Linked DNA regions of Homo sapiens. Each later gene encodes a partner of the first gene's protein in a complex. Each region holds a gene or a part of one and is shown on either strand. Other genes may lie near its edges.

The links.
Region 2: the proteins of DBN1 (region 1) and ZMYND8 are in contact, whole or in part, in a crystal structure (PDB 5Y1Z), measured with the Homo sapiens proteins. Residues at the interface, in NP_004386.3 of Homo sapiens: Met1, Ala2, Phe6, Ser7, Arg10, Leu11, Leu14, Tyr17, Glu18, Asp92, Ala93, Cys96, Ala97, Ala99, Ser100, Lys104, Glu107, Phe108, Gln110; in NP_001350670.1 of Homo sapiens: Gln167, Pro168, Gly169, Thr170, Gln236, Ile237, Val240, Lys243, Ile244, His247, Trp269, Leu285, Gly287, Phe288, Phe307, Gly309, Gln310, His311, Asp312, Ala314, Thr335, Lys336, Ser337, Ile338.

The regions. Positions count from the first base shown.
Region 1 is NC_000005.10:177,466,157-177,482,020, forward strand, and holds the start of DBN1 (drebrin), read right to left. Parts: upstream 7,479-15,864; 5' UTR 7,366-7,478; coding exon 7,280-7,365; intron 6,685-7,279; exon of another isoform or gene 6,620-6,684; intron 6,342-6,619; exon of another isoform or gene 6,055-6,341; coding exon of another isoform or gene 5,963-6,054; intron 2,744-5,962; coding exon 2,688-2,743; intron 2,065-2,687; coding exon 1,952-2,064; intron 1,662-1,951; coding exon 1,587-1,661; coding exon of another isoform or gene 1,472-1,586; coding exon 1,325-1,471; intron 1,177-1,324; coding exon 1,099-1,176; intron 907-1,098; coding exon 755-906; intron 680-754; coding exon 616-679; intron 1-615. UniProt on the Homo sapiens protein: Actin cytoskeleton-organizing protein that plays a role in the formation of cell projections. Required for actin polymerization at immunological synapses (IS) and for the recruitment of the chemokine receptor CXCR4 to IS.
Region 2 is NC_000020.11:47,237,462-47,253,181, reverse strand, and holds part of ZMYND8 (MYND-type zinc finger-containing chromatin reader ZMYND8), read left to right. Parts: intron 1-3,742; coding exon 3,743-3,895; intron 3,896-6,664; coding exon 6,665-7,174; intron 7,175-14,043; coding exon 14,044-14,424; intron 14,425-15,720. UniProt on the Homo sapiens protein: Chromatin reader that recognizes dual histone modifications such as histone H3.1 dimethylated at 'Lys-36' and histone H4 acetylated at 'Lys-16' (H3.1K36me2-H4K16ac) and histone H3 methylated at 'Lys-4' and histone H4 acetylated at 'Lys-14' (H3K4me1-H3K14ac).

The DNA.
Region 1 (15,864 bases):
TATCAACCCACCTCCCTTCCTGAACTGAGCCATGCTCAGTCCTGAATGACATTAGCTATTTCCAAAATACTAAATTCAAAGCATGGAGATGTGACTCTGCTGTGATTCTCAGGGACCAATCCACAGGACCTACGGGCCATTCCCAATGTGTGGAGATTCAGACAGTACCCCTGGAACAAAGGGGCTGCTCCCAGGGAGATGCTGCTCCCAAGGAGATGGTACACACTGCCTGCAGATGCTCAGCACTGGCCCAGGCTCACCCATGCCGCCTGCCTCACTCCTGTGGCCCCTCAGAGTGCAGAACAGTGTCTAATCGCCGAGAAACCCCAGGGCAGGGGAGGGGGAGCCTGGTCAGTGAGGGTCTGGGTCTAGATGGAGTTTCTCTTCCAATCTAGAGCACAAGCTTCTCCAAAGTAGTCTTTTTCCACGGCCAGAGGCCAGAGCCCCACGTGATGAGGTGCCAGGCCTCATGCTCCATGGCACCCTGTGCCCATGCAGCTCCCCAGAACAGCCACCACTGTCCCTGAGCCACTGATCTCCCCACAAGGCCCAGGAACACAGGGACCATTCTCACTTCCCTGACCCAGAGACCGGGAGCCTTGGCAAAGAACTTACAAAGATAGACTGCTCCTTCAACCGCCTCTTGGCCTCTTCCGCTTCTAAAGTCTGCTGTTTCCTCCTGGAACGATAAGCAGCCAGCACCCGTCAGGGTGCGCCCGGGGGCCCCTGGAGCGCTCCGGGCGGGCAGGCTCACCTGTGCTCCTCGATCTGCTGCTCCCGCTCCCGGTAGCGCCGCTCGCGCTCCTCTTGCTCCTGCCGCTCCTGCTCCATCCGCTCCTGCTCGAACCTGAGCCTCTCATCCAGGGCCTTCTTCCGCTCCTCCTCCTTCCGCAGCTCTTCTTCCTTCTGCAAGCCCCGGTGCGAACAAGGGTAGGCCCCGAGCCTAGGCGCCTGGACCCTGCCCCTCCAGCCCCTCCCTAACCCAGCGCTGGGGGCGGGGCACGTGGCATGGGCCATGCCACTGCAGTGAGGGACTCAGACCTGCCCCATGGGGTCCATGAGGGGTGGCTCAGCCAGGCCGGGCTCAGGGTTCCATACCTTGGCCTGCTCCCAGAACTGCTCTCGGTTAATCCGCTTCATTTCCACAGCTGCATCCGTCTTCTGGTAGGTGGTGCCCTGCAGTGTCGAAGGACCCAGCATAAGCAGGCTGAATGCCCCAGGAACCCCCGACACCTAAAGGGTGAGAGCTAAGAGGGACCGGGCAGGCCAGACTCGGGCACCAGGCCACGCAGGCAGAGCCCACGGGTGCCAAACACACACTAACCACGGGCTCTGCGTTCTCATCCTCTCGCAGCCGCAGTCGGTGCAGCACAGGGCTGGAGAGTCGCGCCAGCCCGTTAGAGAGCCGCTGCCCGATGGCACCCGCGTCTATGTCTTCCACGCTGCTGGCGTTCACGATCACGTCGACACCCTTCCGCAAGAAGACGGCAGTGCTCAGGCGGCACCATCCTCCCGCCATCCCCACCCCAGCACGCAGACCCTGGTGGCTGTCCCCACCCCCAAGAGCGCTGGCCCCTGACACGCACCTGGAAGAACTCCGCCACCTTAGCCACGTGGCTGGCACAAGCGCACTTGCGGGCATCAGGCACATCTTCGCCCACCTGCAAAGTACCCAGCAAAGAGGGGGTCAGGAAAGGACAAGGGGGGCCCTACACGATAGGGTGCATCTTCCCCGGGGTGGGAAGAGGGTGGGCTTCCCTCTCCACGGGTGTCAGAGGGCCGACGGGGAGGGCGACTGCTCTGGGCCTTCAGTTCCCTTCCCCAGCCCCGGCCGCATACCCAGTTGATGAGCAGCTCTGGGCCCTCAGCCCCCTTCCCCAGCCCCGGCCGCATACCCAGTTGATGAGCAGCTCTGGGCCCTCAGCCCCCTTCCCCAGCCCCGGCCGCATACCCAGTTGATGAGCACGTATTTTGGCAGAGCAGCTTGGGAGTCCTTGACACTGCAGAAGCCGTACATCACCTTCTGGTTCTCAAAGTGTCCCGAAAGCTCCTGCAAGCCCCCTTCTAGGGTAATCAGGAGAGTGTCAGGTCTCTCTGCCTCCTAAACCCTTCCCAAAAAGAGCCTGGAACTCAAAGCAAAGACTCCTCCAGGCCTCCACAGGCACCCCCAGGGGTCTTCTGGCCTCTGGGGTCTGTGGGTCCCAGTTTTGTGTTGGTATGTGTGGGGGTGGTGGCGCACAGGGATGTAGCTTTGCCTGTGACTCCTGCAGGGCCTGATTTGGGGGTAGGACTGAGGAAGTGTTTGTTCTTCACACTCAGGTCTCATTCTTCACACATCATCATGTCTCACCAGGTGCCAGTGCCCAGAGGCACAATCAAGCCTTCTGGCTCTGGGGAAGGCGGTGAATAGGGCCCTTCCCCCAAAGTGTCCCAGCTGTGTGGCTTCAGATAAGTCACTTTCCCTGTTGGAGGCTCAGCCTCAGAAGTCCAACATTCAACAAGGCTCTGAGATTCCTCCCCACCCTGGGGACACAGGGATGACTGGAGGAAGGACACCCGCCAGATCCAGACAAGTGTGGGGCTGCAGGGTGCAGGCAGGGAGGTGGCCTACAGCCAGGTGGGTGGGGAAGAAAACAACCAGGAGGAGGGGGTGGAGAAGGCGGCGAGGGAATGGCTGGAATTCCTACCTCCTGATGCTGCAAGCTTGAGGTCATCGGAGCCATCTTCATATGTGTACAGAGCCCTGGGGAGAGGGAGGGGTGGCTGTCAAACTGTCAGGGCCCAGGCCGCCAATTCTGGGTGGGGACGGCTCTGGGGAGGGAGAGGGACATGGAGTGGGTAGGACAGGAACGGGGAGGGCTCCTGCTGTAGCCATGACAACAGGGCCAGGCATCGGTTCAGGCGGGAGCCCAGCAGGGTACTGCTGGAGGCCTGGGTCAGGGGGGCGCAGGCAGTGAGGGGAGAAATTGCTGGCTGGTCGAGCTCAGTGCGCAGCATCCCGGCCCTGGCCCTGGCAGCCTACAACCCAGTGGAGCGGGTGTGTGATGGAGATTCCAAGGCGACGGTTCCTTGGTTACCGTTCCCTGGCTACCAGGATCCTCATCCCCCATTGGCTAGTGCCAGGAACTTACCTGGCACGTGCCTTGGTCCCCGCTGCCCCTCCCCCGGGGAGGGAGGAGGAGAAGAGAGAACCTGGTGCTCCCAACAGCTCTGGGCATCCCCCAGTAACCATGGCAACCCTGCAATTGGCACACGACTGGCCCACCCCAACTGCATTCTCCTTGAACACAAAGGACCCTGGGGACCCGCCCTCAGCCTCAATCTCCGCCTCTCTGAAATGGGGATGAGGTCACTGCAGTCACTCTCGCCCAGACTCTGGCCCCGGGGTGGCCAAGCCTGAGCTCCAGGCCTTCCAGCCCCTAGGCTGCCTCAGTCCTGGCTGAGGCTTCCTGAGACTGCTGGCCTTTCCTTCTGTCTGAGCTCTAACAGAAAGCTGACCTGGTGGCCTTCCTCCTTCCTCCTCCTCCCTAGCTTTGTGTGCCCTGGCTCCTTTTGATAGGCTGCGGTGACAGAGCAACCATTGCACAGAAGGGAAGGCAGAGATGCCTCCTCCATCACCCCATGCAGGCCCAGGCTGAGGACCCTCTGGGAGGGAGGAGAGCCGGGGCCTAGGAGGAAGGGCCTTGTCCCTGAAGTTTGAAAGGGCTCTCAACCCCTTCTCCAAACTCCTATTCCCCAGGTGCCAAGGCAGGAGGCTGGGGCTGTGAGGAGGGGAGGCAGAAAGGGAGGGCAAGGGAGAAGAGAAAGAGGAGGGGAGAAGCAGAGGGAGAAACCAGGAGAGGAGGAAGAAGAGAAAGGACAGAAGTGAAGGGACAAAGGAAATGAAGGCGGGAGGGATGGAGGGGACGTCTCAGGAGGTTGTGGCCAGGGCCAAATGGCCTCAGCCCCTCCCCTTCCTGGATTCCCGGCTTCCTACCTCCAGGAAGGAACACAGGTGGGCTGTGGGGCTGGGAGCTCCTGGTCCAACTGTTACCCCCAGCCCCAGCCTGGCCCTGACAGATGCTTCCAGCACAGCTGGCCCACCACCTGTCCTGCTGCCCTAACCCACCACGGGAACAAAGGGCCCTGGGAGAAGCAGGCTCTGTCTCTCTCCATGCACTGATGAGAAACTAATGCAGAGCCCAGGGACCCTAGTTCCTAGAGACTGCTGTAGACATCAAGCCTCCCTCTGAGAGGACCTGTCTTGGCCTGCCTAGGCTCCCCGGGGTGCCTTCCATCCTCAGCCCCTGGCTCCCCACCTCCGGCCACCTCTTCCTGCTCCAGCCGCAGCTCTCCCCCAGCAGAAACCATACCCCAGTTCAAACCCTCCAGCCTGCCTTTCCATTGGACCACCCTGTCCACACCACACACTTGGGACACACTGGACGGCTCCCTGACCCAAGCAGGGTTCTGGACAGGGCTCACCCTGAAGCCTCTGCCTATGTAGTTCTCTTCACGTGGAAGGCAAGACCTGCTCCTCTACCCCACGCCTATTCCCAGTGGAATGCTTCCGTTCTTCAGAGCCCAGTGCTGGCCCCCAGCAGCCTCTCCTGAGCTGCCCCTCCCAGAGCACCCACCATATCCCAGCAGGAATACAAAGACCAGTGCTTCTCAACCACATCAGAGGCACCCCGAGCCTGGTGGTGCACCAGGTGGAAGCTGGCGAAACCACAGGGAATCAGGATGGGGTAGGCGACCAGGCATCTACACATCTCACCAGCTCCAACTCCTGGAGACAGACACTGCCCCCAGCTGTAAGCCTGGTGAAGGCAGGAACGCTGACTCAGTCAATCAGCACATCCTGCTCTCTGGGTCCTGGGGTCCAGCACACCGCATACCAGAAGTATGTGTGATATTGACACCAACTCAAAAGCCATCTAGCCAGATAAACTGAACTAGCGTGAGGTGGGAGCTGGAATGTGGCAGTTCCAGAGACCCTGGGGTGAGCTGGGATGGGGGGTGAGCTGGGGTGGAGGGTGAGCTGGAGTCGGGGGCTGAGGGCAGGTGGACCCCGCAGGACCATCACTCTCAGGATGGTGGTGCTAGAAAGGCCTTCAGTATCCGAGGTAGTGCTGGGCCCAATCCCTTTTCTTTCCAAGAGGACCAGGAACTTGTGTATGATCACAGTGAGTCATATCACAACCAGGACAACAGTGGCCCTTCCCACCACACAACCTCATTTCCTGGGTCCCCTGCTCCCTGTGCCAGAGTAGTGGTGCACTTCAGAGGCCCTGCCACCTAGGAGTGAACTCCCCCAACCACCCCTCCCCATTGGAGGCAAGGTAAGGGTCGGGGGGCAGACAGCAATTTACCCAAGACACCCCTCCCTCTGGACCTATGTGCAGGGTCTGCCTCTGAGTCTTCAGACCTCACTGCACCCCTGGTTCCATGCTGGGCCCTGGGGTATTCATATTCTCTTGTGTAGAAAGTGATCCTCACACCCCTTTTTCAAAATGTTATCTGGGCCCTTAGTGAACGAATGTGTGCATGTGCGAGGGTACATGTGTGCATCTGTGTGTGTCCCACACACAACCCAGATGGGGGCTGACGCACACCAGTGATGAATAACTCGCTTTGGCCACACGGATGCTGCTGGGGTGGGTGGGGGCAGGCCTGTGTTGAGCAGGATGTGGGGCAACAGGGGTTGTGTGGCCTTGGCAATAGGCCACCAGAGCTCTGCTTTTAGGAGAAAATGGGGTGTTGGTAGACAACACCCCTCCAGGCTGGAGGGCAAAGGAGGTGTTCTGGGGTGAGCTGTGCTTCTCCCCAGGCGGGGCCTTATCCCAAAGCCAGCTCCTTCACCAGGCCAAGCCGGCCACTTGCCCAGAGCTCCTCCCATGATCTCAGCCCCCCTGGGGCAGGGCTGGGACAATGGGTGGGCCGCCTGCCTGCTGAGCCTGTGCCGGCCTCTCCTGTGACTGACCTGCAGGACACGAGAGCTTGTCTCTCGCGTCCATCCCTCCAGGCCTGGCTGCTGGCCAGTGCTGCAGTACCATGCCATGGATGCCCAGCCATCTCATCCTCTCCTCCAGAAGCCCCCAGGTCAGAGTCCCCACCTGGCTGCCCTCCCAGTGTGCGGGTGAGGCCAGCCCAAGCGGGGTCCCTCAGACCTGCCCTCCTCTTTGCCTCAGTTTCCTCAAGAAGAACCTGTTCCCATCTGCCAGCAGGGAGAGGAGGCCTAGGAACCAGATGGGCACCTTCCCTAGAAGAAGAGTATTACGGGGGGGTTAAAGGATTCCAGGATGGGGCTGTGAGGAACCCCTCGGTTTCCTTTTTCCACCACCCTGGGCCGCCAGCCCCAGAGCAGGTGGTCCATCCCCTCCCCCAGCTCAGCGGGAGACAACAGCTGGGGGGCGGGGTGAGGGGCGGCCCAGCTCCTCCCCCATCAGGGACCGAGTGCCCCTTGCTGGGGGCCGGTGGATCTGTTCACCCCTTCAGCCGTCTTTGGGGGCTCCCTCCACACTTGTTCTCCAGAGGGCTTCCTCCCAGGGATCTCAGCTGGCCCCTTAGGCAGCTCGGTGCCCCCCAGCCCAGCTGCCTAGTCCCCGCAGTCCCCTTCAGGTAGGGGAGGAGAGCTCACCCCTGCCTCCTCCGCGACCCGCGGCGGTAAGGGAGTCACTTCGCGGTCGCCATGTGGCAGCAAACATCCTTCCACCTCACTCCAGCCCAGGTTTCGGGGGGAGGGCGGCCCACTCCGAGAGGCCCCCCGGTGGGCGGGGCGCCCGGCCCCCAGCCCGCTCCGCTCCTCCCCCGCCCTCGCTTTCCTTTGTGCTGTGGCCGGGCCGGGCTGAGCCGGGCAGGCTGCGCTGGCTCCGCTAGCTCGGTCCCCGCCCCGTCCCCGCCCGGACCTCGCCCGCTCGAAGGTGGCGAAGGTGCCCTTGGCCGCCCCGTGCACACCTGTCCCCCGGGCCCGGGGGGTAGGGTGGGGGATGGGCTCCCGCAGGGCCACGCGGCCCCGGGCCCCACATCGGGACCCCGCGCCTCCGGGCCGCGTCCGGCCGCCGCTCCCACCGCGCGCCTTGGGCCGCCTCCGGGCGCTCGGGGCCCGGCAGTGCCCCGCCTGGCCCGCCGGCCCCTCCCCCGGCGCGCACAAAGGCAGCCCCTCCCGGCCCTCCCGGCCCGCTGCACCATTTCGGGGTCCCCCTCCCTTCCCGGCGGCGGGGCGGCGGGGCGGGAGAGAAACAAAGGCGCGGCGGCGGCGCGGGGACAAAGGGGCCGGGGGCGGGGGCGGGGGGCTCACCAGTCGGCCGCGCTCTCCTCTCGGATCACCTCCTCGTAAGCCGCCAGCAGCTCCAGGCGGTGGCCGCTGAAGCTGACGCCGGCCATGCTTCGGGCCGGACCGGGCCGAACGGACAGACGCGCGGACGGACGGGCGGACGGAGGAGGAGGGAGGGAAAGAGGGAGTCGCCGCCGCCGCCTCGGAGCCTCTGCAGCGTCGCGAGCCGAGCGAGCCAGCGGCCGGGGGAGGGGAGCCGGCCGGCGGGGGGCGGGGGGCGCTGGCTCCGCCCGGCTCGCTCCCTCCGCTCGCTCGGTCCTAGCGCCGCCCCGGCCCGGCCCAGGGGGAGGCCCGCCCCCCCTTCCCGGCCTGCCCCGGGCGCCCCTCACCCACCGCCCCTGCGCGCCGCTCCAGGGCCAGCCCCACCCACGTCCCGAACCCTCACCTGCCCCGTCCGTAACCTCGGCGCTAGCCCTCCTTCCAGCCCCGAACCCAGTCCCGTCCCCACCTCCCCCCGCCCACCCCCCGTCCCAATCCGGTTCCGCCCCACCCATTGCTTCATTGATCTCCATTCCTGGTGCGTCCCACCTCATGTTAAACCCATTTTCATCCCAACCCAGCTCACACAACACCCCACCCCTGGCCCGTCTCCTTTCCCTGAGAGGTCCTTGCCTAGTCTATCCCATCATATCCACTGTCATCTGCATCCCACCCTCAAATCCACCCCAGTTGCTTTCCCATCCCAGCTTCAGCCCCATGCTTAGCACGTGTCCCCCCCAACATGTGTCACGGCACATCTTCAGTCCAACCCATCCCAGTCTCATCCTGATCCCAGTTCCCAATTCCCAACCACAGCCCCCCATCTCGGCTCCATGACCACTTATTCCAGGCCATTCTCAGCCCCTACCCAGCTCATTATCCCTCCATTCCAGGCCTCTCCTCCCCTCCACGCCTGTGCCCTCTCAGATGGGGCCAGCTAGGAGATCCTTTGCATTCTCTCTCAAGCCTCACGCCTCCCAGAGGAGTCCCAAGTAGAGTTCCGGAAGCAGCATCTAACCCCAGACTCCCACGGCAGGGCTCCTCCAAGGACGCTCAGGGCCAGCCTCTTGGCACCTTTATCTCCTAAAGCTCTAAGCACAGAACGGGAGGGGGCCTCAGAAAAGTACCCCCTGCAAGGGAGTGGACACCATGCCAGGGCCTTCCAGAACTCCGTTCCTTGCTAGGTTGGGACCCTGAAACCGTCCACAGCGCTTAGAAGCCTTTTCCACCACTACAAAGCCTCCAACCTCGACCTCCCTGAGCAAACTTCACCTGGTCCCAACCGCACCGCGGAGGAGGAGGTGGTTCTAGCCAGGCCTCCGAGTTCTGCGTTGGGTAATTGGCTATGCCAAGAGAAGGAGAGCAGGGCTGCCTATGTGGCAGTGTTCCTGGCGCTTTGGAGTTGGGAGAACCCTCTTAAAACTCAAAATACTCACAGGCCCCTGCCTTGGGAAGTCAGTGCCCACTATGTCTAGGGACCACAGGCCATGGCAATTTCTCCATGGCCACCACTAGAGTGAGGCACCCAGGCAGGGACACAGCCAGGCCCTGTGCCCTAGACCAACTGGCCAGTAGGTGTGGTTGGCCTGCCATGGGGATCCCTAAGGGAGTGGGTGACACATGGTGGGGAAGGGAAGTGGGGAGAGCCATGGAGGGACAGAGCTTCAGCCATCCCCCACCCTTAGGCATGAAGAGCCTGATTCTGGTGAGGAGGGAGACCCTGCAGCCGGGGAGGGGCAGCAGATGGCTGGCCATGAGCATCTGTGGCCTCAGCCTCTTCCAGCTTCCTTTGATTTGTCCTAGCTCACAGCTCCTCGCCCCCCCCGCTCCCCTCACCCCCCAGCCTCCTGCACACTCAATTTTGCATCCAAAAAACAGAAGCCCTAAATGCATCTAAGCTCTTCCTTCCTCAAATTCCTGCCTCCCCACCAGCCACCTACAAACTCTCCAGCCACGCCCACTCTCACCTCTTGCCATCAACATTTTTAAATAAACTTTCTATTTTAGAACAGTGTTAGATTTACAGAAAAGTTACAAAGATAGTATAGAGAGTTCCCATACACCCTGCACTCAGTTTTCCCTATTTTCAGGGAAGCAAGGGTGTTCCCTGCTGGCATGCCCTAGAGCCCACTCCCCTGGTCTCCGCACCCGTCACCCTTCCAGGTTATCTTCATCCCCTCATTTCTATAGGATGCAGACAGACATCTGTCCTCTGTCTCCTCCTCCCCGCATTTTCTCTGGCACTGCTCTGGCCAAGGTCACCAGTAACCCCTAACTTGCCAAACTCAGTGGACCCATAGTTCTCAGTTGCCCTGACTGGTGGGAGTGGGTGGCCACTGGTCACTGTCCTCTGAGAACCTGCCTCCTTTCAGCTGCTGTTGCCCCTGAAGCCCACACACTCAGCCTTGGTGGGTGGGAGGCTGGTGGGTTCCTCCTACCAGGACTTCGTGTCTGCCACCCCCAAACCGATCACCCTTCAAGTCACTGACAGGTCGGTCTCTCCCACCCCCAGAGCATGAGCTCCCCCTACACACAGCGGGAGGCTGGGCCAATGACTTCTGGATCCCCAGAGTGGAAAAGATGAGACAAGGGAGGACTGAGATCCAGAAACTGGGCCTTTGCTGTGTGACCTTGGCTGAAACACTTCCCCTCTCTGAGTTTCCTTTTGATAACCTGTTGTGAGAATAAAATGGGACTGGATGGAGGCTTAGAAGGAGAACCCCCTCCCTCCCTCCCTCCTCACAGCCCCACCCTCCTCCCTCCACCCCCACCTTCCTGTTCTGTGCTCCCCCACACCTCTCCGGGAAGGTTTTAGGGCTGAGGGGAGGCTGCAAGACTTTTTCAGCAAGAGCTGGTGGAGTCTTCTCTGGCCTCTTCCAACCTCTGCAAGATCCCACCAAGCACACACACAGATTGCCCCTTGATCATCACAAAGCTCATGGCTGTTCCCAGGTATCTGCCCCCGGCGCCGGGCCAGCCACGTTCATTCACATTAGCTCTGCTCCTGAGGAGTCTATTGCTAATGGTGTGACCTTGAGCTTGGTGCCTGACCTATCTTGAATCACTCATCTTCAACTGTAATATGGGGGTGATAGTGATGGTACCTACCTCCTAGGGTCAGTTTGAGGATTTTCAAAAAGTATCTAGGAAGTGCTTAAAATGAGACCAGGACATAGTAGGTGCTGTCAATGTGTTGATTGTTATTATTAGTTTACAGATGGGAATACTGAGGCCCAGAGAGAGTCAGTGACTTGCCCGGAGACACACAGCTTTGTGTCCCATTCAGACACAAAGTCTGAATGGGAACCCAGGTCTGTCCCAGGTCATTTCGGTACCCCACACACCCTCCCCGCTTCCCCTTGTAGCACCCCTATTTCTGCATGCAGGGGTGAGGTGGGCTGGAGTCTGATCAGAAGTTGCAGATGCTCCAGCTCTGAGGTCTGGGAGTGGAGTCGGGGGCGGGGCCCTGGGCATGAGGGGAGGAAGTGCCATGGACCTCCCTGCCAGGCCTGCTCCGCCTCCCGTTTTCTGGCAGACTTTCCACTTTCAGCTCTAAACAGGAGTATGTCGTCCAAGCCAGGAAGGGTCAGACCCAGTGACTACTTCAGAGACAGACACATGACCCAAGTTAGTCCAATGGGCGTTGGCCCTCGGACTTTCGCTGGCGCCATTAAGAAAGCCTCCCTTGCCGGGAGCGGTGGCTCACGCCTGCAATCCCAGCACTTTGGGAGGCCGAGGCGAGCAGATCACGAGGTCAAGAGCTCAAGATCATCCTGGCCAACATGGTGAAACCCTGTCTCTACTAAAAATACAAAAATTAGCTGGGCCTGGTGTTGCATGCTTGTAGTCCCAGCTACTCAGGAGGCTGAGGCAGGAGAAACGCTTGAATCCGGGAGGCGGAGGTTGCAGTGGGCTGAGATCACACCACTGCACTCCAGCCTGGGCCACAGGGCGAGACGCCATCTCAAAATAAATAAATAAATAAAAAATAAAAGAAAAAAGAAAAGAAAGGCTCCCTCTGTCCGCTGGGGCTGCTGAGCTGGCCAGGTATGGGCCTGGAGCTGCTGGGGGCCATCCTTGCCAACAGTGGGGAGAGCCTTCTGAGAATGAAGCCAGCATTGAGGACAGCAGAGCCGAGAGGTGGAGAGCATGAGAGAGGGTCCCGGTAGCCGCCATGGGTACCTGGATCCAGCCAGGTCTGAAGCCATTCACTTTTTCAGTTCAATTATCCCCGTTTTTGCTTACACTAGCTTGAATTGCAGCTGAGAGGCCTACCTAATCTGCCTCGTACCCAAGTAGTGGTCATTTTGTCAGTGGCAAGAAACTTGGGTGAAATCTCAGTTGATCTTCCAGTACTCCAAAAACCTGAGCGGGAGGGCCCAGGCTGGTCCTGGGGTCCTCACTGGCTCAGAAGTGGCTCCCCCCGCACAATCTCCCAAGTGGCTGGTGCTGGTGTCCTGAGTTCCCCCAGGCTGTCAGTCAGCGAGCTTGTTCTTGTTCCACCATGACCCCCGGAACCCTGGTCCCCTCCCCTCCTTCCTTTAAGGCCTCCGTTGGGAGGGGTTCTTCTTCCAGTCTCAGGGTCAGCTTTGGATTTAGGCAGTCTCAAGTTCAAAGGGCGACCTGTGGCCAGCCCTTTAGCCCAGGGCCTCAGCTCCCTTCCTGTGGCAGGGCCACCTGGAGAGTCTGAGGATGGTGTGTGTACCTTATGTGTGTACCAAGGCCATGTGGGGCCCTGCACTGAGGAGGCAGTGGCAGAATCATGAGGGCCTGCCTCTGTACTCTGGCAAAACAGTTCCTCGCCCTCCACCGCCTCTCTCCCTGCTGATCCAAATGAGCTCAAGCCATTCTGAGCTGGGAAAAACCCCTCCCTTGCCTGCTGCCTCTCCAGTTACCCACTCAGCCCCCTGCCATGGGCTCTGCCCCCTCCAAGGGTGCTAATGGCCTCTCCTGCCTGGCACGAAGACATTTACTTCCCGGTCCCCATGGCCTCCCCCCGCACAGCCTTGCACCCCAGCTTCGGAACACTGTGATCTTTGCAGCTTGTGGTTGCTATTATTATTTTTTTGAGACGGAGTCTCACTCTGTCACCCAGGCTGGAGTGCAGTGGCGCAATCTCAGCGCACCACAACCTCCACCTCCTGGGTTCAAGCAATTCTCCTGCCACAGCCTCCTGAGTAGCTGGGATTACAGGCGCCCGCCACCACGCCTGGCTAATTTTTGTATTTTTAGTAGAGATGAGGTTTCACCATGTTGGCCAGGCTGGTCTTGAACTCCTGACCTCAGGTGATCCACCCATCTCGGCCTTCCAAAGTGCTGGGATTACAGGTGTAAGCCACTGTGCCCAGCTGCTATTATTTGACAGATGGGGAAACCAAGGCTCAAAGAAGGGTTGTGTCTTGCCCGGAGGCACACAGCTGGTGGAGCGGCAAAGTCTGGATGGGAGCCCAGGTGATGGGGGACGCATGAGAGGAGCTGGGGAGTGCTGGTGGGTCAGCAGGGAACACTTTGGCCTTTGATCCTTGGAGTGGCAGTCCAGGCCATTCCATCTGGGTGACTCTGTACAAGTCACTGATCCTCTCTGAGCCTCAGTACCCTCATCTGAAACATGCCTGTAATAATGTGTTCTCAAAGGTGTTATGATGATTAAATGACATGTGATTGCATCATGTTTCCGGCCTACGGAGTGAGGGTGGCTGTTTCAAGGAGGTGCCTGGCACCTGCTCCTGCCCCACTCTAGGCCAGCTCCAGCTCCACGGTTCTGCATTTGCCCCTGCCCTTCACCCCACTCTCTCCTTACGGCCCCCTCCCAACTTCTCCCATCTTCTCCCACCATCCTCCAGCAGATGCCTCCCAGGCCTCTCCCGCCACCCACACCCTGGCCTCTCAGCTGAGCTTGGCGGTCATCTTGGCCCACCACAGCCAAACCTCTTAAAAGAGCTGTCTGCACTCTCTCCTTCCACATCCTCCCCACCCTCCCGCCTTGTTCCTCTTTAACCCTGGCAGCCGCCCCAGCTCGGCTAAACTGATCTGGCAAATGTCACCTTGTTGTGAAATGCCACGAGGGACTCCTCGGCCTTATCTGCCTGGTTGACATTGTCGGCAGCTTCTTGACACGCTCTTGCCCTGTCCAGGCTTCCTTGCCCCTTCCCTGGAGGTTGTTGTCCTCCTGCCCTGGCCGTGCTGTTCCTGCCCAGTGCTGTGATGCTGGTGTTCCGGCGTCTCACCTCCTCACTATGCTGGGCCCTGGCCGTCCTCATGCTGGATTTGGCCCACATTTGTTATTTTTCTAATAGGATTAAAAAAAAAATCTAATGTAGTTGCCAATATTCAAACACCAGATCTCACATACAAATCTGAACCTCTGGACGCTGTCGATAAACTGGCAGATCTGGCCGTGCTGCTCGGCGTTCCCAGACGGGCTCCCGGCTACAGTTACCATCCGTCCCTGTGCCCTTCTCGCTTGTATCCATGGGAACCGAGGACGGACGGAGAGGGCTTCACAGTTCAAGAGAAGTGGGAGAGAGCACATTTCCTTGTGGAAGTGAAAGCTACTCTGTGGTTAACATGCCAAGGATGTCCAGGTTGAAAGAAAACCACATCCCATCTGCTTGACCCCTGATGCTCCCTGCGTGGGCCCTGCTCCTGGCTCTCCCTAGGCCTCAGTGACCAGCATTTATGTTGACTGCCCTGAGCCTGTCTCAAATTCATTCCCGAATTGAAGTGGAGGTGAATCCAGACTTGAATCTTCAGCTGTTTCCTGAATGTGTCTCCTAAATGTCCCACAGGTGCCTCGTGATCATTCAACAAACACTTACTGGGCATCCACTATATGCCAGGCACTGACATAAAGTCACTCCGGCAAGGCATCATGAAAATAACACGAGGCTGGGTGCGGTGGCTCATGCCTGTAATCCCAGCACTTTGGGAGGCCGAGGCAGGCAGAAAAAAAAAAAAAACATGAAAATCACACACGAAGCTTTGCACTCATTCTCCAGGATTCCAAGAGAGAACACAGCAGAGACCCTTCTTGTCTCTCTCTCCCTTTTTTTTTTTTTTAAAAAAGAGACAGGGTTTCGCTTTGTTGCTCAGGCTGGAGGGCAGCTTACTGCTGCCTCAACCTCCTGGGCTCAAGTGATCCTCCCACCTCAGCCTCCCAAGTAGCTGAGACCACAAGAATGCACCACTAGGCCCAGCTGAATTTTTTTTTTTTTTTTTTGAGACAGTCTTGCTTTGTTGCCCGGGCTGGAGTGTAGTGGCGCAGTCTTGGCTCACTGCAACCTCTGTCTCCTGGGTTCCAGGGATTCTCCTGCCTCAGCCTTCTGAGTGGCTGGGATTACAGGCATGCACCACCACACCCGGCTAATTTTTGTATTTTTAGTAGAGACGGGGTTTCACCATGTTGGCCAGGCTGGTCTCAAACTACTGACCTCAGGTGATCTGCCCACCTCGGCCTCCCAAAGTGCCAGGATTACAGGTGTGAGCCACCACGCCTGGCCACATATATATATATATATATTTTTTTTTTTTTTTTTTTTTTTTTTTTTGAGACAGAGTCTCACTCTATTCCCCAGGCTGGAGTGCAGTGGCACGATCTCAAGCTCACTGTAACCTCAGCCTCCTGGGTTTAAGCGATTCTCCTGCCTCAGCCTCCCGAGTAGCTGAGATTACAGGCGTGTGCCACCATGCCTGGCTAATTTTTGTATTTTTAGTAGAGACAGGGCTTTATCGTGTTGGCCAGGCTGGTCTGGAACTCCTGACCTCAGGCGATCTGTCTGCCTTGACCTCCCAAAGTGCCGGGATTACAGGCGTGAACCAACGCGCCCAGCCCTGGCCTCTAATGTTTTAATATTTTGTAGAAACTGGGTCTCACCAGGCCGGGCGCAGCGGTTCACACCTGTAATCCCAGCATTTTGGGAGGCTGAGGCGGGCGGATCATGAGGTCAGGAGATCGAGACCATCCTGGCTAACATGGTGAAACCTTGTCTCTACTAACATACAAAAAAATTAGCTGGGCGTGGTGGCGCAAGCCTGTAGTCCCAGCTACTTGGGAGGCTGAGGCAGGGGAATCGCTTGAACCTGGGAGCTGGAGGTTACAGTGAGCTGAGATTGCACCACTGCACTCCAGCCTGGGCGACAGAGCAAGACTCCATCTCAAAAAAACAAAAAACAAAACAAAACAGGGTCTCACCATGTTGCCCAGGCTGGTCCTGAACTCCTAAGCTGGAGCCCTTCTCCAGCCTCAGCCTTCCAAAGTGCTGGGATTAGAGGTGTGAGTCACCGTGCCCAGCCCTTCTCGTCTCTTAAAGGGGACCGGGCCAAGGGCCTGTTGAGAAGACTAACAGATGTGTTGCAGGTCCTCATGCCAGGGACCACTGAAGGACGGGCAGCCATGGCACACTGAGCTGTCCTGGCCTACTTAAGGCTTCTCTTCAGTCTTTCCAGTCCAGGCTTGGGACAGGAGAGATGACAGTCCCTCTAGGGTGGTGCGGGCATCAGTGGGAGGCAGGAAGCCCCAGAGTGACGGCGCCACCACCAAGGTCTACAGTCCTCCAGGTACCGGGCAGAAG
Region 2 (15,720 bases), on another chromosome or scaffold:
GGCTCAGGCCTCAGGATTTTCTAAAACTTTACAGGCAATTTTGGTGTGCAGCCAGGGTTGGCAGTCACTGGACTAGTATAGAAGATGGCAGATTTTACGGCTTTCAGGCCAAATCTGGCCCCCACCTGTGTTTGCAAATAAAGTTTACTGGAACACATCCACACCCATCTGTTTATGTAGTGTTCATGGCTGCTTTTGCAACAGAGCCTGTATGGCCTGCAAAGCCTGAAATATTTACTCTCTGGGCTTTTATTTTATTTTTTGAGATAAGGTCTGGCTCTTTTGCCCAGTCTGGAGTGCAGTGGCCTGATCTCGGCTCACTGCAACCTCTGCCTCCTGGGCTCAAGCGATCCTCCCACCTTAGCCTCCTGAGTAGCTGGGATTACAGGCGTGTGCCACCATGCCTGGCTAATTTTCATATTTTTAGTAGAGACAGGGTTTCACCATGTTGCCCAGGCTGGTCTCAAATGTGAGCTCAAGGGAACTGCCCACCTCAGCCTCCCAATTGCAGGGATTACAAGTGTGAGCCACTGTTCCCGGTCCTCTCCAGGCTTTTACAAAGAAAGTTTGTTGGTCTCTTTTGTAAATTTTTTCGTTAACTGTGTATTCTAGTAGTATATAGGAATATTGAGGACACTGATGAATGTGTCACTTGGGTAGCCATGGAGAGTATTTTTGTGAGTATACGTTTCCATCTTTATTCTTGAAAAGGCTGGCTTTTCCCTCTGGAATCTAGCATGCTTCTTCATTTCTGAAAGTGGAAATTCCGAGGGAGGCCTCAAATCCCTCCCCCTTTGCTGTCACATTTGCATGCAACTCAGCTGTTAAGTCCTTGAGTCCTGCCTACTGGAACTCTTTAATCTGGGCTTTTTTTTTTTTTTTTTTTTTTTGAGACAGAGTCTTGCTCTGTCGCCCAGGCTGGAGTGTAGTGGTGCGATCTCGCTCACTGCAACCTTCGCCTCCTGGGTTCAAGTGTTCTCCTGCCTCAGCCTCCTGAGTACCGGGGATTACAGGCACCCACCACCATGCCTGGCTAATTTTTTTATTTTTAGTAGAGACGGGATTTCACCATGTTAGCCAGGCGGATCTTGAACCCCCGACCTCAAGTGATCCTCCCGCCTTGGCCTTCCACAGTGCTGGATTACAGGCGTGAACTGCTGCGCCCGGCATTTCTCTTTTCTTTCTTTCTTTTTTTTTTTAAATAAACTTTTAATTTAAAAGTAAACTTTAGTGTCAAAAATGCAAACTCGGGGAGGGCAGAAAGATCACACACAAGGCTGCCACTTTACACCTGGAGGCTTGCATGGCGGCCAGACAGAGGTGCTCCTCACTTCCCAGATGGTGCGGGGCGGGGCAGAGGCGCTCCTCACTTCCCAGACGGTGCGGCGGCCGGGCAGAGATGCACTCCTTGCTTCCCAGATGGTGGGGCGACTGGGCAGAGGCGCTCCTCCCTTTTCTTTTAGTGTTCCCCATTCCTTATTTTTAAAATTATTTTACCCTATAATTTCTCTTTGTTAAGCTACTTCAGATTTCTTGCCGGACAGAGACGGGTATAAAGAGTTTTCTAGTTCTTTGTCCAGTAAATTTTTTTTTTTTTTGGAGACAGGATCTTGCTCACCCAGGCTGGAGTGCAGTGACGCAATCATGGCTCACTGCAGCCTCAAACTCCTGGGCTCAAGCAGTCCTCCTACTTCGGCCTCCCAAGTAGCTAGGTTTACAGGCGTGCACCACCAAGCCCAGCTACTTTTTGTATTTTTTGTAGAGATGGGGGTCTTGCTATGTTGCCCAGCCTGGTCTCGAACTCCTGGCCTCAAGCAATCCTCCTGCCTCTGCCTCCGAAAGTGCTGGGAGAGGTGTGAATCACTGTGCCTGGCCCCACTGCAGTAAATTTGCACATTCTTCACCCTCTCAGAGGTGGCTGTGTGAATGTCTGCAGTCCTGTCTCTAGTAGCCTGTCTTTAAAGCCCTGATAAGTGTGCACACACACATGCATGCACACAGATACTGTTTTTGCTATTTTTCTTGAATTACAGGGATAGTGTCTCTGCTTGCTTTGAGCACTCACTTCTGGAATCTCCCTGGGTCTGGGAGGGGCAGTCTGTAAGTGTGATTTAGGAAAAGACCCATCTCTTCCCTCCTTTTTTTTCCTTCAAAAAAAAAAAGTCTTGCTCTGTCTCCCAGTCTAGAGTGCAGTGGCGTGATCATAGCTCAGTACAGCCACTAACTCCTGGCTCAAGCCATTCTCCTGCCTCAGCCTCCTGAGTAGCTGGGACTACAGGTGCATTCCACCACACCTGGCTGGGAAAAGACCTCTTTCTAATCTTATCCTGGGGGCTGATAAAATTAAGTTGGAGCAATTTATTGCTTCTGGTCACCTGTGAGTGGATTGGGTGGGGCTTTTGGGAGGCTGCTTCTAGTTACTTTGAAGGAGCTGATTTCTGGGTATGCAGTGTTTGAGAACTCTCCCTTACTGCATGAACAGGAAAGTGGTTGGGTCAGGCCAAAGGAAAAAGGTAGGAGAGAGTGATGGCTTTAAACAGTGCTTCCAGCCCAGCTCTCAGACTAGATTCTGGGGCCTCTTTCACAGCCCAATGAATGGAGGTGGCCTGAGGTATGGAGGGAGCAGGGAGATGAAGCACGAAGTCCAGGGAGCAACCTGATAGCTGTTGGGAACAGGCTCAGAGGTGGCTTCTCCTCTTTGTGGGTTGATTGGATTCCACCTGCTTTCTGACTTATTTTTTGGGATCGGCCGGAGTAGGACAGATGCCTCACACTCGCTTTGGGTGGGTTGGAGGGGATGCCAGAGGGTGGCAGGCACAGTGGAGGACAGTAGGCCCCACCTGCAGAGTTGCTTGTTGCTTTCTGGACCTTTGCAGCCACTGAAACTCTTAATATTTTGGGGGCACTGGAGTCGGTGGGAGAGGAATCCAAGAAATGTAAGCTCACTGACTTTGGAATCTGTCCTGCTGGTCCTACAAAGAGCCCTCGAAGAAGTGAGGGGACAGGACCTCCGGCCTGAGTCACCCCCCAGAGGCCTCTGCCTGGGAACTAGGCTGAGGACCTTGGACTCTTACTTGAGCGAGACCTGTTAGACAGAGGTTGAGTATCCAGGGCTAATCTGTTCCCCTTGCCTCACATAGATGCTGTGAGCCACAACACACTGGCTGGAAGGTCTGCCTATCTTATATTCCCTGCCCTTTCTAGTTTCCACCCCAGACTAGGTCCACTGAGAATGAAAAATGAAGCCTCTGTGGCAAATAGGCATTTAGGGCCCCCAATTATCAGGGTGTTTTCGAGGGGGTCGCCATCTTTCTTGGATACAAGTCCTCTTCAATCTGGACCTGAAGTTACAAGTACACCTTGACCAGGCTCAGTGTTGCTTTGTTCACTGAAATTGAGATTGAATATCTGCCCATAACCTTTGTCTTTGGAGGGTCCCTAATGATGTTGACTTCCACACACTGAGCCATCTGGCTGGGATTGTCCATTTTAAATATTGAAAGTCACCCAGACGATTGTTCAGTGGACTGTTTAAACCTGCCAAACGTGTTCACGTGGGCCATTATCTTCATGTCACCCCATTTGGTTGAGCAGATGATATTGTTGGGATGAATGACAAAAAAAGTATCTCCCCCTCCCCCATGTTCTAAAATGTGTGTTTTGCTCTGACTTTGCAAGGACGAAGCTCCGTGATGAGGATGGTGTGTGCCTGATCTTACGAGGGTGTGATGGTTTCTTTCAGATCGAAGCAAAGCTGAGATGGATTTGAAGGAGCTGAGCGAGTCGGTCCAGCAACAGTCCACCCCTGTTCCTCTCATCTCTCCCAAGCGCCAGATTCGTAGCAGGTTCCAGCTGAATCTTGACAAGACCATAGAGAGTTGCAAAGCACAATTAGGTATACCTTTGGTTTTGTTTTTTTTTTCCAGCAGTATCATTGTTATCATTACTGGTAGGGATACCACCTGGATGAAATCAAGGTTGAATCCTGGCTGCTTTTAGCAGCTGCTTTAACTTTCAACTATTTGCTCAGCTAAAATATATTTCCACTCATGGCAAAAGACTTCAGACTTGCTAGTTAATTCAGGGCTTTTTGAACTCATCAGTTTATTCTTTGGTGAAAGCAGTCTGGAAACTCGAGATACAGGTTTGAATCATCAAGGTTTGCAAGCAGAATGAGGATCCTCTGAGTTTTGCCTCTGCTCTCCTCAGTACGCATCAGTGTCTCCACACGAGTAGTGAGTGTGTTCTGTAGGTGTCCGACACGAAACCCTTTCCCTCCAGACTGGTCTCCTCCCCACCGGGCAAACCCTGCTTCTGTAGCTGTTGCCTTTCTTCCTCTTCCCTGTGCTGCCTGCCTTCACACTGCCTACCTGAATCCTGCCTTCTGTGAGGCTGAGCTCAGATCTCACCTCCTCCAGGAAGTCTCCCCTGACTGCCCTCCCCATCTGCCCTCCTCCTTTGGTACTTCATTGCTCGGAAGTAGCAATGGTCCCTTTGTGTGGGGGTGTCCCTCCCAATCTAGACTGGAAGCTCCTTGAGGGCAGGGAGGCCGTTTTATGAGGATTTGCCTTCTCTATGGTACTTGGTCTGTGCACATGGTAGATGCTCTGGAATGTTTGTTGAATAAGTAAGTAAAGCTAGGAGGGCATTTGTAAAGAAGTGGGGGATGGCTGGGCCTCTGGAGAGCAAGCTCCTCTGAGTGTCAGTGGGTGCTCTGCATCTTCAGGTGAGAAAGCAGCTAGAGTTAGGGACCCATCTGGGGCTATCCAGAGGACAACAGCTCCCGTTGGGTTGCCTGTTTGGTGAGGACATTGGGTGGCATGGGTGAAATTTGGCATGCCATTTAAATAATCCTCTTGGGTCCTTCCATGCAGCTGGCCCAACTCTTGATTTGTTTTTATTGCTAATAAGAATTTTATTATTTCCATTTACTGAGTGTTTCCTTGGACACTATGCTAAGCACTGCATATAGATTGTCTTGGGAGGTTGATACTTTTATCAGTCCCATTTTGCGGATAGAGAAACTGAGGCTCAGAGAGATAAATAACTTGTTCAGGGTCACACCAGTAATAAAAACAGAAAAGCAGGATTTGAATTCATGTCCTTTGGACTGCAGTACCCAAGCTTTTCCTATCACATATGTGCTTACACTTTTCCTTCTTGTTTCCAATCATTACCTACCAGTAGCACAAGCCTAGGATCCCAGAATTATACCAGATCTGGGTGTTTGTATTTTGGCTTGTGTTCTTCCTGTGTTGCCCTGGCTAGCCTTGAACTCCTGGGTTCAAGCAGTTCTTCTGCCTCAGCCTCCTGAGTAGCTGGGACCACAGGTGTGCACCACCATGCCTGGCTCGACTTGTGTTTTTGATTGAGCCCTGGTGGAGGCAGATACATTCCCCAATGATCCAGCTGATCCCCCATGCCCCGGGCTGTTCATGGCTCTGGTATTTTTGCAGGTTTCTTTTTGGTGTATACAAGTCGGACAGTGGCACCATTCACAGTGGCCATTGCTCTAGAATGAAGAGATTGCACAGACTTGATTGGGTTTTCTTTCCTCTTTCTAAAAGTTTAGGATATGGTATTATTATCTACAGTATGATGGCATAACATATGGTTGGGGGCAGGAGCCGTAAATGGGTTAAATGGAACTATTGTTAGAAATGTGCTTCTGCCCATTTTTGTTTGTGTGTATGAAACACCTGCTAGTTTGTGCTTCTTCCTTTTGAAAGAGACAGAAGTATGTGACTTCTCTCTTGACTCCTTTACCAGTGGAAGAGCAATGCACACCGAGTGGCAGTTGACTTTCCACGAGTGCAGGGAACAAGAGGGAGGGCTGGGCACCCGGGTCACCTGGAGACAAGTGTGTCCCCCGCCTAGAGGAGCCAGTGGCTTTCCTGTTCCAGCCAATGCCTGGCAGGCTGGTGACCCAGAGCGGCTAGATTTTCCGCTCTTTCATCAGAAGCCCCTGCTTTGATTTCTATATGAAATTTCCTGATTTGTGAGTTGGACAACACATTTATAAATTAAAAGCAGACAAGATACCCTGTGGGCCAAACCAGTGCCTCTCGCATGAAACATGTCTGCAAGCTAGATGTGGCTTGTGGGCTGTTTGCAACCTCTGCTTTAAGGCTTTGGCTTATTTTCTTTGGCCTAGACACAAAGGATCAAGAACTTTAACCCTTTGGAAACCCAAGGGAAGAGTGTTGGTGGGGAGCCAGGAACCCGGGGTTCTGGCCTGGCCTCTGTCTTGTGTCCTAGGGCAGGTGATATCCCTGGGCCTCTGTTTTCTAATCTGTAAATTGGATCAGTTTGAACAGCTTGTCCCTGCTGTTCCCTTCCAGCCCTCTTCATTCTCAATAATCCCAATTAGTTATCAACGTTGCAAAAATTTGGCACCACATGTTTAGTGCCATATAAATTTAAAATCTCCGTTGGTAGGTCCTGTGTCTCCTAACAACCAAAACCCTCTCCCAAGGCAAGTACCACTTGGCAGCCGTAGCCAGTTGCCACTTGAGATTATTACTGGCCCCATTTAGGCCAATGTGATGCGATTTGAAACGTGCTTTTCTTATTCCAGCATTTGGTGTGGAAAAATGTTTGCATTTTTCATCCTGCTCTTTATTTTGTGACTACGCCACATGCTGGGTTTTCTTTTTGAATTTAGGCATAAATGAAATCTCGGAAGATGTCTATACGGCCGTAGAGCACAGCGATTCGGAGGATTCTGAGAAGTCAGATAGTAGCGATAGTGAGTATATCAGTGATGATGAGCAGAAGTCTAAGAACGAGCCAGAAGACACAGAGGACAAAGAAGGTTGTCAGATGGACAAAGAGCCATCTGCTGTTAAAAAAAAGCCCAAGCCTACAAACCCAGTGGAGATTAAAGAGGAGCTGAAAAGCACGTCACCAGCCAGCGAGAAGGCAGACCCTGGAGCAGTCAAGGACAAGGCCAGCCCTGAGCCTGAGAAGGACTTTTCCGAAAAGGCAAAACCTTCACCTCACCCCATAAAGGATAAACTGAAGGGAAAAGATGAGACGGATTCCCCAACAGTCCATTTGGGCCTGGACTCTGATTCAGAGAGCGAACTTGTCATAGATTTAGGAGAAGACCATTCTGGGCGGGAGGGTCGAAAAAATAAGAAGGAACCCAAAGAACCATCTCCCAAACAGGATGGTAAGTGATTGTATCTGTTTCCAGTTTTCTTAATTTGGTTTAGAATCCTACCTCGTACACTTACTATCAAAAGTTATGTGACCCTTAAAGAAACAAATCAGAAGTTATGTGACCCTCTAACACACTGAGAGAGAGGCACAGTGAAGCTGTGTTTGGTTTAAGGTTGCCTAGCTAGTCATAGAACAGGACCTGGACTCAAACATGGGCCTGCCTACCTTTAACCTGCTCGGTATCCAGTATGATTGATTTTGAGTACAGAAAGAGAAGTCTGTTAGAAAATGATGGTTACTTTTAGTGACCAAGTCATTTTTAGTCTGAGCAGCTTCTTTTCCAATATGCTCATTTATTTCCCCAAAGTGTTTGTTAACATTTGGATCTTGTCAAATGGTCCTTCAGTGCTGCATTCCACAGACATCTCATTCTCTTTTGACAAGTCTCAAACGGTTAGGAGTGTTCATTTCAAGCTGGGCATGGTGGCTCACGCCTGTAATCCCAGCACTTGGGGAGGCCGAGGCGGGTGGATCATTTGAGGTCAGGAGTTCAAAACCAGCTTGACCTACATAGTGAAACCCTGTCTCTACTAAAATACAAAAATTAGCGGGGCGTGGTAGCAGGCGCCTGTAATCCCAGCTACTCGTGAGGCGGAGGCAGGATAATCGCTTGAACCCAGGAGGCGGAGGTTGCAGTGAGCTGAGATTGCGCCACTGCACTCCAGTGTGGGTGGCAGAGCAAGACTCCCTCTCTAAAAAAAAAGCAGTGTTCATTTCAAAGGTTTTGATGATTTCAGCTTTGCTTTCCTCCCCTCATGCCACCTAGGCATCTCCAAGTGTATTTTCTTACAGTAGTAGGACAGTATTTGGGTGATTGGTGCCAGAATACTGAGTGCTTCTTAGGGCACTAGAAAATGGAGTATGGTGGATATGTGTATTGGCTTTTTTGGGGAGGGGGGGCGGACAGAATTTGGCTCTTGTCGCCCAGGCTGGAGTACAATGGTACAATCTCGGCTGACTGCAACCTCCGCCTCCCGGGTTCAAGTGATTCTCCTCCCTCAGCCTCCCAAGTAACTGGGATTACAGGCACCTGCCACCACGCCTGGCTAATTTTTGTATTTTTAGTAGAAACAGGGTTTCACCATGTTGGCCAGGCTGGTCTCAAACTCCTGACCTCAGGTGAGCCACCCAGCTCGGCCTCCTAAAGTGCTGGGATTACAGGCATGAGCTACTGCGTCTGGCCTTACTGGCTTTTAATCTTATTTGCATTTAACTTAGCTCAGAGTTTCACAACCTTGCACTTCTGACAGTTTGCCCTGGCTAATTCTTAGTCCTGTGTATTGGAGGATGTTTTCCAGCATCCCTGGCCTCTACCAGCCAGATGGCAACCTTACTTGCTCAGTTGTGGCAGTCACAAATGTGGCAATCAAATATTGCCAAATATCCCCTGAGTCTCAGAGGCTACGGTTATATTCTGAACCAGCAGTGACTACCCCACAGCCTAGTGCAGCCTGGGCATGTTAACAAGCCCAACAAAAGGGGTGTGGGAATGATTGGAAGGATGTCCTTCCCACTGACAAAGTATTCAGCACATTTTTGAGTTGGCTTGGCAATTAGGTTAGAGGATTCAACATGCTCAATAAAGATACTGAAGAATTAACTAAGGGCCCAGAAGAAACATTGCCCCAGGACAAATTACAGGTTGTAGCCATAAAACCTTATGTATGTGGCGAGTGACTTAAGGGATAGCCAGGTTTAAATCTTGACTGTGCCTAACTTCTATCAGGAGCTAACTTGTCAATGAAACCCTTGAATAAGATGTAACTCCATGTCCTTTGGGGTTTCCATTGTCTGGTGGCTTAAAGCAAGTCAGGGATGGGCCTTGAGAATCTTTCTGCTGTGGTTATGGTCAACCTGGGCTGCTCTGGAACCTCAGCTGTCAGAGTGAGAGAGGATTCCTGCAGTTCAGCTAAAGAGAATGTCTGTGAGAGGTACAGTGGAGGAAGAGAGAGATACAGTTACATAAGGGAGGGAGGATAGGCCATCAAACCATCCCGACCCATCTGTTAGATTTATAGATGGCCTCTGAAAAATATGAGTATGTTATGGATTGGGTTTTGAGAGACTGTCTCTGTTGTTGCAGAGAACAATAGGAGTAGCATTTATTTCATGAGGATCGTAGGAATATTTGGGTGCAGATGGCAGTGCTCCTATGAGTGACATATTTATACTGTTCTTTCTTTCTGGAACAGATCTTTTGATTGATTGGTTTTGTGCCCCTACCTCTTCCAGAAAGAATTTGCAACAGATTGACAAGGATACATAACCATATGAAACAAGATGAAAATAAAGACATCCATGTAAAAGGAAAATGAAGGTAGAATAGCAAGTGGTCTGGGGAAAGGTTTTATACAGAAATCTGTACTATTTCAATCTTCAGAGTTAGGGAAGTTGGCTCTGAAAGCAGAATGGGAAACACAGTACCTTAGAAGATCTCATACTTTCCAAAAAAACAAAAAACCATTCTAGTTGATTAAAAGAAGTAGAACTTTTCCTCACATTGATGTCTGAAGGGAATTTCTCCAGGAAGCTTTAGTAGATGGTGGACAATTAAGCTGAAGATGATTCTAAAACACAGTTCAGTTAGAGCAGCTTCCTAAGGCTTGGGGCAAAACCAATTGATCTTAAATTCAGAGCTGATGGTGGTTTGGGTCTTGAAAAATTCTCGTGTCAGACTCCGCTAGAGAGCATCTTTTCAATGATGTGTTTTCACTTAAGAGTTTAGTAAGTGAAGGGCATTTTGGATTGCGCTGTTGTGACCTCCAGCTTACCTTCCACTAGGGATGCAGCTTATGGGTAGAATATGAATCTTCAGATGGCAAAACAGCTTTTATAGCTAATAACCTCAGAACAGAAGCAAAGAGAGCACACTTAGACTCTTCGCTGTGCTTTCACTGGCACATCAGTAATTTCCATCCTTCTACAAAGGGGATGCTAATTTTTCTCTTAAAAAGTCCTTGCTTTATAAATGAAAAACAGTGACCAGTGACAAATTCAGGAATTAAGTAGGTTAATTTGATAGGGCAGCTTCTCAGGTGCTGACCCTTTAAAAAAAAATTCACCCTTTTTTTCCCGCTACAGGTGATTGATTATGTACTCCAGATTTCTGGGACAAATGAAATTTCCTGTAGCCTCATTTTGTCTCCATAAACCATCAGGATTCCTGGAAATTTAAATATTTTGATATCTAAATAACTTCAAACAATTTTGAGCCTGGAATCTTATCGGATTGTATACTCTAGTTCTTTATTTGGCAGAGAGCCAGCTGTGATCACTGCAGAGCAGTAACCCCTCCGCCCTGCTGGCTGTTTGCTTTTGCAAATCAGGAGAGAGAAAACGACCATTTTGCGGTTGCCCTTACGGTGGGGAGACAGGCTAGCTCATCAACAATAACAGTATATTTTTTGGTAATGTGGCAGGAAAGGAAGGCATTGAAGGCACTTACGTGGGTTAGAAGCTCTGCTAAGGCACTGCCCCCTGCCCTCCTCTTAGAAGGGCCCAGTTCAACACCTCATCTCCACCTGGAAGAGGCGGGGACTGTGCCCCATATCTGGCAGGTGGCCCTGGAAGCATCGGAGTTCTTCACTGCAGGAAGCTCTCCTTCCAGACCCACCCCAGGCTCTTGCTGACCAGCTTGGCTGGATTCTCCTCTCTGGGGAAGTACAAGGGCCAGCAACATCTCGATAACCATCGAGAACGCCCTCTGAAGTCGGGATAGTCAGCTTGTCTCTTTCCCTCCTTGGCTTCTTAAAACCCACAGCTTACTGAATGAAAATCCTTGCTGGAGTAATCAGGCTCATGTCTTTTTCTGGGTAATACTGATCTTAAAAAGACAGACATAGGCCGGGCGCAGCGGCTCACGCCTGTAATCCCAGCACTTTGGGAGGCCGAGGCGGGTGGATCACAAGGTCAGGAGATTGAGACCATCCTGGCTAACACAGTGAAACCCCGCCTCTACTGAGAATACAAAAAATGAGCTGGGCATGGTGGCGGGCACCTGTAGTCCCAGCTACTCGGGAGGCTAAGGCAGGAGAATGGTGTGAACCCAGGAGGCGGAGCTTGCAGTGAGCCGAGATCGCGCCACTGCACTCCAGCCTGGGTGACAGAGCAAGACTCCATCTCAAAAAAAAAAAAAAAAGAAAAGAAAAAGAGGCAGACATAATCCTTATTTAAAGGAGTTTGATGTCAGGGAGCATAGTCCAAGATCGGGGTGCTGGCTTGTACCTGGGTGTGGTGTGTGTTCCCCAGATATCCTCTCTGGGGCATAGGCTCACCTTACCGGGGGCTGAGGCCTGTGCATCCATAACTGAGCCACCTTTACAAATGAGCTCCCGTGTGGTCATCGCCTCTACGTGCTGCTCAGTGCTTCTGGCTCTAACCTCCCTTCCAGCCCCTCCTCCCTGCCTGCCCTCACTTACTCAAATGCTCTGTATTCCTAGACATATCTTGGCTGATGCTGTTCCCTCCAGATTCTCACTTTCCGCCTGTTGAAATCCTACCCTTTATTCCCCACCAGCCCAGCTCCTCCAAGATGACATACTCCATATGGCAGCGTTTTTCAAACTTGAGTCATTCACATTCATTGTCTTTCCCGTTCTCAAGTCCTGCTTGTATAATTTTTGACTTTTTTTATTTAAAGAATCTTTTTTTTTTTTTTTTTTTTGAGACGGAGTCTCGCCCTGTCACCCAGGCTGGAGTGCAATGGGGCGATTTCGGCTCACTGCAACCTCTGCCTCATGGGTTCAAGCGATTCTCCTGCCTCAGCCTCCCAAGTAGCTGGGATTATAGGCACACACCACCATGCCCGGCTAATTTTTTGTATCTTTAGTAGAGATGGGGTTTCACCATGTTGGCCAGACTGGTTTCGAACTCCTGACTTCGTGATCTGCCCGCCTCGGCCTCCCAAAGTGCTGGGATTACAGGCGTGAGCCACTGCACCCGGCCAAGAATCTCATTCTTTAAAAATAAAATTAAGCTCATTTAAAGCGGGACACAGTAGCACGTCCCGTGTAGTCCCAGCTATTCGGGAGGCTGAAGTGGCTTGCTTGAGCCCAGCCGGGGTGATATAGCAAAACTCTATCTCTTTAAAACATAAAATAAAATAGGCCGGGCACGTTGGCTCACGCCTGTAATTCCAGCACTTTAGGAGGCCAAGGCGGATGGATCATGAGGTCAGGAGTTCAAGACCAGCCTGGGCAAGATGGCGAAACCCCGTCTCTGCTGAAAATAAAAAAAATTAGCTGGGTGCGGTGGCAGGCGCCTGTAATCCCACGTAGTCGGGAGGCTGAGGCAGGAGAATCGCTTGAACTCAGAGGGCGGAGGTTGCAGTGAGCCAAGTTTGTGCCACTGCACTCCACCCTGGGTGACAGAGTGAGAATCCATCTCAATAAATAAATAAAATAAACTCATTTTATTTACTTTTCATTTATTATTATTATTATTTTGAGACGGAGTCTCACCCTGTCACCCAGGCTGGAGTGCAATGGCATGGTCTCGGCTCCCTGCAACCTCCACGTCCCGGGTTCAAGCGATTCTTCTGCCTCAGCCTCTTGAGTAGCTGGGACTACAGGCGCCTGCCACCGCACCCGGCTATTTTTGTATTTTCGGTAGAGACGGGGTTTCACTATGTTGGCCAGGCTGCTCTTGAACTCCTGACCACAAGTGATCCGCCCACCTCAGCCTCCTAAAGTGTTGGGATTACAGGCGTGAGCCACTGCGCCCGGCCTATTAGTAATATTTTTTGAGACGGAGTCTCACTCACTCTTTCTCACAGACCGGAGTGCAGTGGCGCGATCTCGGCTCACTGCAACTTCCGCCTCCTGGGTTCAAGGAATTCTCCTGCCTCAGTTTCCCACCACGTCTGGCTAATTTTTTTGTATTTTTAATAGAGACGGGGTTTCCCCATGTTGGTCAGGCTGGTCTCAAAATCCTGACCTCAAGTGATCCGCCTGCCTCAGCCTCCCGAAGTGCTGGGATTACAGGCGTGAGCCACCGTGCTTGGCCTCATTTTTTTAGTAAAAAAATTTCCCCTGAAAAAAGCATCTGCAAGTATAAACTCATTTTAGACTTGAACACCACCCAATAAGAACAGTAGCACACAGTATACATAAAAGCTGGTGATAGGAATAAATCCAATCAAAACCAAAGCAATGCTACTCAATCCTAGATCAGTACCATTGCGTTGGGGGAAGGTTCTGGCCTTGGGGCAGAATTTGTTTTCCTGGTATTGTCCTGGCTATCAGTACCGCCTTCAAACTTTGTCCTGGAGGGAATCAGAAGAGATGAAAAGAATACTTTTCTTTCTGGGTGACTGAGTGTTACTGCTTTGGCCATTGGGAGGCCATCTGGCTCTTTGGAGGTATTGCTTTCTACGTTCCCTAGCCAAAGAATTGCTCTTCCTGTCTGGATTGACTTCCGCTGGGCCCTTCTCAAGGTGCCGACTAGATTTTAACTTTGCGAAAAGGGCGTGAACATTGAATCTGTTCGCCCACCGCATTGTCCACTAGGTGTAGGGGAGCTTGAGCGCAGGAGCCGGGTCTTGTTTGCCTCATTCTCCCCTAGAGGTCTTGACTTGTATCTCAGATGTGGGCCGGCGCTCAGTAAAGGAGGCCGCTGCTCGCGGAGATGGAAGACGCCGCAGAAGTGGCCTCAGCGTTAGGTGAGAATGTACTCCTCCAGCGCGGTGTGCTTGGCACGTCGAATTGGTTCGGCATTCCTGGCTTTCATAGGTTTTACCCAGAACTTGGTGGCGTCAAGACCGTGCAGGTGAACCTGAGTGAAATCCGGTTTTTGTTTGTTTTTTCTTCATGCATTGGCTAGTTGTAGGTAAAACTCCACCATCCACGACGGTGGGCAGCCATTCTCCCCCGGAAACACCGGTGCTCACCCGCTCTTCCGCCCAAACTTCCGCGGCTGGCGCCACAGCCACCACCAGCACGTCCTCCACGGTCACCGTCACGGCCCCGGCCCCCGCCGCCACAGGAAGCCCAGTGAAAAAGCAGAGGCCGCTTTTACCGAAGGAGACTGCCCCGGCCGTGCAGCGGGTCGTGTGGAACTCATCAAGTAAGTTTCAAACGTCCTCCCAAAAGTGGCACATGCAGAAGATGCAGCGTCAGCAGCAGCAGCAGCAGCAGCAAAACCAGCAGCAGCAGCCTCAGTCTTCCCAGGGGACGAGATATCAGACCAGACAGGCTGTGAAAGGTACCGAGCCTCCCCTTCTGTTCTCCGTGGCGCCCGCTCCCATTTTGCCACATCGACAGGAGAAAGTCATTGCTCTTTTATTTTTTTTTTTTAGTTCTCGTTTGTTTCCGGGCCATTGTATCTTGAAGGCCTTGCACATTCCATTTGGCATTATTTTTAAAAATTGTTTTGCTACTTGCTTTTTTACTTTCAAAAAGTTTTTTTTGTTCATTTTATAAATGATACATGCATATATTCTCCTTAAAAAGGGGGCAGAAAGTTTTACATAAAAGTCTGTTATCCCGTTTACCTTCCATTTCATTCTCTTCCCTTCCACAGTGGCCAGTATCAACCGTTGTAAAAGCTTTTCTATGCATGTATGCATGTATATGTATATATACATATCTGTATGTATATATGTGCGCATCATGTATATGATGCCATAAAATTAGTCCTTTTTCCCCCCTTTTTTTCTTTTTTAAAACATAAAAATGGTACCATACTTGCTTTTTTCCCCCACCCATCAGCATGTTTTGGAGGTCCATCCACATCAGCACATACAGCCCTGCCTTGTTCTTTTGGACTGCTGCATAGTATTTCATAGTTTATTTAAAGCATTCCTCTACTAATGGGCATTTAGGTTGCTTTCAGTTTTTTTTCTACTGTGAGCAGTGCTGCAATGAATATCTTTGTATAAATTTCCTTGTGCACATGAGGGAACCTCTTGGAGTTATTTTGGAAAAAGTACAGTGCGAGAAGTTGATAGCGAAGGTTACCTTAGTAACTGGAGATTCGTCACACACACAAGATGAGCCAGCCTCAAGAACCACTTGCTGAAGTTGCAGAATCAGAACTCCCACCAGTCCTGCAGGAGGCTCCATCTGGAGCTGAAATTAGGCCAAACACAGTGCTGATCTGACTGGTTGGTACCAGTTTGCCTGGCTTTTGTGAGCATTGATGTAGATCTTTCTACCAGGAAACCTGCATCTAGATCCTCAAAGGCTGGGTTCTTCAACTGAAACTCATAGTGAATGCGCCCCTGTGAGGGGGGCTCATGAGCAGCAGAATGTGAGGTTGAAAGGTGGCCAGGTCTTGAATTGGCCCCCAGTGAAACCCTTCACAGATGGCGAGGGAGTGGGTCCTGAAGAATTGGCCAGGCAAAATTGAGAGTACAGTTGGATTAATCTTGCTATTTAAAAAGTTGGTGGGGCAAAGCCGAGTCTAGGATATTTGAGATTGGGATTGCGGCTTCCTGTCTTCTGTCTTCATATCTCATAAGCAGGAGACTTCCCCAGGGGAGTTTAATTGCTACCAAGA